Regions from separate parts of the Homo sapiens genome. Here region 2 is linked to region 1. Evidence: fine-mapped expression QTL. A gene starts in region 1. The other region holds a variant in brackets. All regions are shown on one strand. Distances are from middle to middle. Region 1 holds the start of LRRC40 (leucine rich repeat containing 40). Region 2 overlaps LRRC7 (leucine rich repeat containing 7).

Evidence for each region. PIP is the estimated chance that this variant, and not a neighbour inherited with it, causes the effect. A credible set is the group of variants that fine-mapping cannot tell apart.
Region 2: its variant is the best candidate, but not a certain one, in a credible set for the expression of LRRC40 in blood mononuclear cells (TOPMed, PIP 0.79).

The regions. Positions count from the first base shown.
Region 1 is chr1:70,204,441-70,207,363 of GRCh38, reverse strand. It overlaps LRRC40 (leucine rich repeat containing 40), which reads left to right and starts at 1,785. Exons shown (of 15, transcript NM_017768.5): 1 at 1,785-1,974. The coding sequence starts at 1,824. It also overlaps a transcript of SRSF11 not described here. RefSeq lists enhancers at 1,562-1,871, 2,132-2,191.
Region 2 is chr1:69,804,031-69,806,953 of GRCh38, reverse strand. All of the region lies in intron 4 of LRRC7 (leucine rich repeat containing 7), which reads right to left. Among named protein-coding and RNA genes, the nearest start is that of LRRC7-AS1, 240 kb to the left of the region's middle. The variant A/C (reference allele first, on the strand shown) is at 1,312.

The DNA.
Region 1 (2,923 bases):
TGCAAAATTAGTCACTGTGTTAAATAAGAAATAGCAAACAGAGGTATTATTAGCACTGAGCCTGGTATGGGCCCAATAAGGCAGCTATTACCATTACTGTGAAGACAAGCTGACCAGGGACCTCATTAATAACGTTGCAAAAGCTGCTACGGTCGTTTTCCTTTAAAACTCAGGCTGGGCACGGCGACTGACACCTGTAATCCCAGCACTTTGGGAGGCCGAACTGGGCGGATCGCTTGAGGCTGGGAGTTCGAGACCAGCCTGACCAACATGGCGAAACTCCGTCTCTACTAAAAAATATAAAAATTAGCCAGGTGTGGTGGTGCGCGGCTATAATCCCAGCTACTGGAGAGGCTGAGGCAGGAGAATCACTTGAACCTGGGAGGCGGAGGTTGCAGTGAGCCGGGATCACGCCACTGCATTCCAGCCTAGGCGACAGACCAGACTTTGTCTCAAAAAAAAAAAAAAAAAAAAGACAAAAATCCACTCTTTGCTTTTTTAGTAGGGTAACAACTATTGGTAACTTTCTCTTGTTCGATATTAGTGTAAAGGACTCCACAGAAATAAGAACAAAAAGGGTAGAGTTAAAAACCGAATTTTACAGGTAGCAATAACCTGGACTCAGGTAAAAGTGCGTGATGAAGAATTGATCAAAGGGCCTTCATCCTAGCTTTCAACTATTCTACCAATCCTCAGTAGACTTGATGGGGGTTAGAATGGTATTCCCTGGCATATGCTTTTAAAACAAAATCATTTCAGGCAAAAGAAAAGTCTAGCACCCAGGATAGTACACATACTAGGCAGGATTAATCTTAATAATTACTTGTTGAATCAAGAAGTTGTACATTTCAGATGAAAATTTTAATTTCCTAGGAAACACCGACTTACATTGAACAAAATTTTCATTTGCTATTATTCTGGACTCACCGAGAGCTCAAGATTCTAGTTTTTATCTTCACTTATTTCAAAAACCTTATGCGGTAGGAATTATCCCCAAAGTAATGAAAAAAAGGAATGAGCTTTAAAAGCGGTTGAGTAAACTGCCTAAAGTTAACAGTTTCTAAAGTAAAGAAGCAGCTGAGATTTGAACTTGCTTTTTAGGGCTCAAAAATCCAAGCTGTCTGAGCTTCACTAAAGCATGTACCACTACTTGTCTCCCTAAACTGTCTGATACACAGAACATTTATTAAATTTTAAGGATTTTTGTTTTTGTCTTCTATGTTGCCAGTCCTTCCATTTCACATTACCTCCTTTGCTGGGTAAGCTATATACCCTCAATACAACGAGAATGGTGTCAGAGTACAAGCCTTAAGAACAGAAAATTTCTTTTACTCCGTACGCCAGAGGTCTGGCGCCACCACCACAAGCGACAAACACAGGCTGGGGTCCAGAAACGCTGCCGACCGCGCCCAGATCTCAAGTTTTAGTCAAGGCCCACGTTCAGACTAGGAGAGGGGAGAAGAGAGGGTTCTCTTTCCCCACACCCTCGCCACGGTGGAAGCACAGAGGAGAAGGTTGGAGTCGCAGTAACAGTGCAAACAATAAACCCGAAAGCCCCTCTTAAGCCCGTTAAACGCACTTACTTGATTGAAGTAATTCCAGGACGCTAGGCCGGCACCGGCAACGGAAAAGGCTTCTCTGTCCTCCAGCCCAGGCGCTGGTGCTGACGACATCTGGACTGCGCCGCAGAGAGTGAAGGCCCAGCGCGAGGCCGCGAGCCCAGCGCCCAGAGCGCGCGCTCACGAAAGGAGCGGGGCATCCCAACGGCGCCACCTTTAAGCGTCACGGGTGGGGCTGCAGCTTCTGGACCTAGGACTTTGAACATGTCGCGCCTGAAGCGGATAGCGGGGCAGGATCTCCGCGCTGGTTTCAAAGCAGGTGGAAGAGACTGCGGTACCTCGGTACCCCAAGGGCTGTTGAAGGCAGCGAGGAAGAGCGGCCAGTTAAACCTGTCGGGTAGAAACCTCAGTGAAGGTAAGACCCAGAGGTACGACCCTATTGTGTCTCCTGTCAGAAAGCCTTTGGCCCAGGCAACCTCCCTTTTCTCTGGGCTGGCTTTGGCCCCCTTTCTCAGACTGCTAGCCAGAATTTCTGTGCTCTAATCTAATCCCTGTGCTCATTTCGACCGGTTTGGTTAGCCCAGTTCAGTTCCTTCCCAGGTTCCCGCAATCTCTGTTAAAGGGACCCTGCTAAAAATACGGTCTAAATTTAAACGGGGCGCTTTCTGGGATTCCCACATTCTGTGGGATAAGCAACATAATATGTGACGAAACCAGCTATCAAATCACGGGCAAATCTTTTGTTTCTTTGGCCCTTATTTTCCTCCTCTTATTGTAATCTTCAAGGGCAATTACCAAAGCTAAAATTATATGTTTTATCGGCCCCTTTGTGAACCTGCACTGTTCCCTGCCGAGACGCTCTTCTGTATGCAGCTGTGCAGAGTTCTACTTACAAGGAATAATGAGTATATTTTCTAAGTTGAAGATCAGGATAGATGCCACACAGAGTGTTTGAATGTGGGGACATCCTGAGAAACCTGTTAAAGACCAAGAAGCACAAATCTGGGTACCATGAATGAATGGCCAGATGCTCTTCTGATTGTCGTGTGTGTGTGTGTGTGTGTGTGTGTGTAAGAGAGAGAGGGAGGGGAATGGAGAGATGGAGAAATAGAGCATTTTTCCTGTAATGTTTTTCTTCATTTATATTTAGGTTTTAAGACTGATTAAAACCTTCCATTTTCCTTCTAATGATTGCTTTCTTATTGTGACATGTATAAAGTAGATTAGGCAAGCAAATGCTTCTGAATGAATGAAAAGACACAGAATCCTTACTCCACCTAAAAGAGTTTTTGATCAATGGGAACATACTCATTTTCAAACTACAGTTGTGCATATATATATATCTACTTGGTTTCCCCAAAACC
Region 2 (2,923 bases), 400 kb after region 1:
AATAGCTATTGGAGCAAGTAAGAAGAGATGCCTCCTTAAAATTGTCTGAGTATCAGCCTGAAGCAATTATAGCTGATGGTATCATTTATAGAGAAGATGATGGAAAAAATGACAAAGCTGACACCAGGAATCTTCATGTCTACCATTCTTATTTTGGTGTATAGGCAAACAGCCACATACACTAAAAAGAAAGTTCAATACCAAACTCATAATGAACTCAAGTCAACACAGATATATTAAATTTCATTGATTACACTCATTTAACCATGGTAATGCAATAAGAAACATTGCTAGGATAATTTATGACCACAGTGATTAAAACAAAATTAAAAATGGGGCAATACTCTATTGAGTAGGAAGTGCAGATTATAGGGAGATTTCAGAAGGGAAACAAACATATTGTATACTAGAAGAAAAAATAGGCAAGACTCTGCCTATTTTAGTAGCATTGTAAAGTGAAAAACCAAATGCTGGTAATCAATAGAGAGAGTCATACGACTGATTCTGCCTTACAAACACATCTGAGGAAAATTTTGAGGAGTGCTTATGACCTTGGCCAACAGTAAGTTCACATGGGAATGAATTTGACTTTTAGTCTAAATGAGTTAATTTAAGTGACACTTCAATTCCTCTTGTTCTCGCTCTCTTTCTCTCTCTCTGCTTCAACAACAAACACATTGAGTCTTTTATGTGAAATGAACTGTTTAATAATCTTGCTTCATACTCGACAAATGAATTTTTCCTTCCTTATCAATTTACCACTTTATTGAGCACTCACTATGCCTGGACATCGATAGGGGCTATTGTGGATCTAGAAACAAGGTAACGTTCATTCTTGTTTTCAAGGAGTTTACACTGAAGCTGCAAGGTAGCATGGCATTGTAGAGGAAGGACTCACAATGCTTCATTGCCCATTTAAGTTTGCTCTTTTAATTTTTTTTTAAGGATCTACTGAGACATGGAAGACAGGTTCATCACTTAGCTCTGCTGCAACTCTAGGAAAATTGATCAGTTTATGTAAAAGAGCCCAAGACAGATTTCAAAAGGGTGAGGAAGTGTTCTTCCTTGTATTTAGTACATAACCAGATTGTAAGTTTTATCTCCCATGGAATAAGTGCTAGTGAAACACATAAGGCATTATTTGTTTATTTTATGTCCTAATGAAAATATTAGAAAGAGTTAAAAGTTCCAGCATTAAGCTGAAAAGGTGGCAGGAGGAAATGATAATAATAAAAAAACCTAGGTTTTGTTACCATGATGTTCTTTAATGGAAACAGAAGGAGTCAATCCTCAGTTTACTTTAACACCATA[A/C]CCCAGAGGAGAAGTAGATTCTGTACAAAGGGAAGGTAGTCTTAAAGTGAAAGAAGTGCTAGTGATCACATTTCAGATAAATAACTCATTAACAGTGTTGAAAGTGAGATATTTAATAGAATAAAATAATGAGCTTTACTCTAAATAAATGGTGTAATGGTTTGCCAAACACCAGAGAACACATTTATTGCTTATTGAGAACAATTGCATGGTACCATTTTCTCCCTGACACAAGGCGTCACAGAGTAGACCCCTTTATGAATTTATAATGTATACACTACTAGAGTCTCAAGAGTAATGTGCTCAGATGTTTAAAGATTTCTATCATTTAACTGATTACCCATATATGCTTTTTCTAGCCTATTTGAGAGAAAAAAAGTCCGCCTCCTATCCTTCAAGTAGAGGATATGATTTGTCTTCAGTGTTTTGCATGTATTTGAGGGAAGGGGTGGAATAGTTGGCAAGTTGGTAAAACACATAATAATGCCTTCAATTCTGATTGCCTTTCATGATAACTAACAATAATGATTTTTTTCCCACTATGATGCTGTGCAAATCCATTCTTGTATAGAAATAAGTTTTAGTGGATGAGAGAAAAATCACTTAATTGCTGCAGAATTAGAAGCACTTTCAAATTAATTCATTTTCATTAAAGTCCTTAAATTATAGTGTCGTAGTCTCTATAAAGCAATGACAAATCAACAATCAGACTTGAAATAGAATCACTGCCTAATTAAATCTTATAATTCATTATGGTGCTTTATCATACAAAACAAAACAATTTACTTCATTATGACCAGGTATTGTCTCCACAAACATGCATGGACTACTTATTTAGAAATCATAATATCATGAAATGTATTCATCTCTGATGCACATAGGAGTTTTATTTTACTGTTGAATTAAGATGAGAGGAATCATGGACAAAAATTCATTGGCATAGAAAGCTGATGCATTTACTTATAAATTGCTGCATATAATTAGGGAACAAAAAGAATTTAGAAAGGAAGAATAATTTACATGCAATGTAGATATTTATATATTTCCTCTAGATAGCTGGCTAGCTAACCAGGTTTTAGTAAAACTAACCAAAATTTCTTTAGAAAGTTCAATGTTAATATACTTATTTTTTCAAAGAAAGAATATCTTTTACTGAACATAAGAGATCAAAACTTCATTTTCCAGTTCATTTATTTCCAGCTCATTAGGTGTTTTTAATGTTCCAAGAAGGTAAATATTTCAAGTATTGGGTACTCTCAATGTTCCAGGTATGTAAAAATCATAAAATGTGGTATTTGTCTTAGAGAAGTTTATAATGTAATGGAGAATAAAGTGTACAATTAGTAGATCTCTAGCCTATACCTAATAATAAAAGAATATATATTTTTATTACAAGCAAGAAGAAACATTTGAAAAATTAACAATATACTTGGCCACAATGTGAAAGGCAATAACTAATAAGAACTCAGTATCATCAAAACCATGTAGTCTGCAATGTATTTCAATAAAAACAACGGTGAATAAAAAGGTCCCAAATGTATTAGAGCACCAGAAAACAATTTAGTAAACCATAAGAAAGTAAAAGAAGGGACATAATAATGATAGCTGCAGT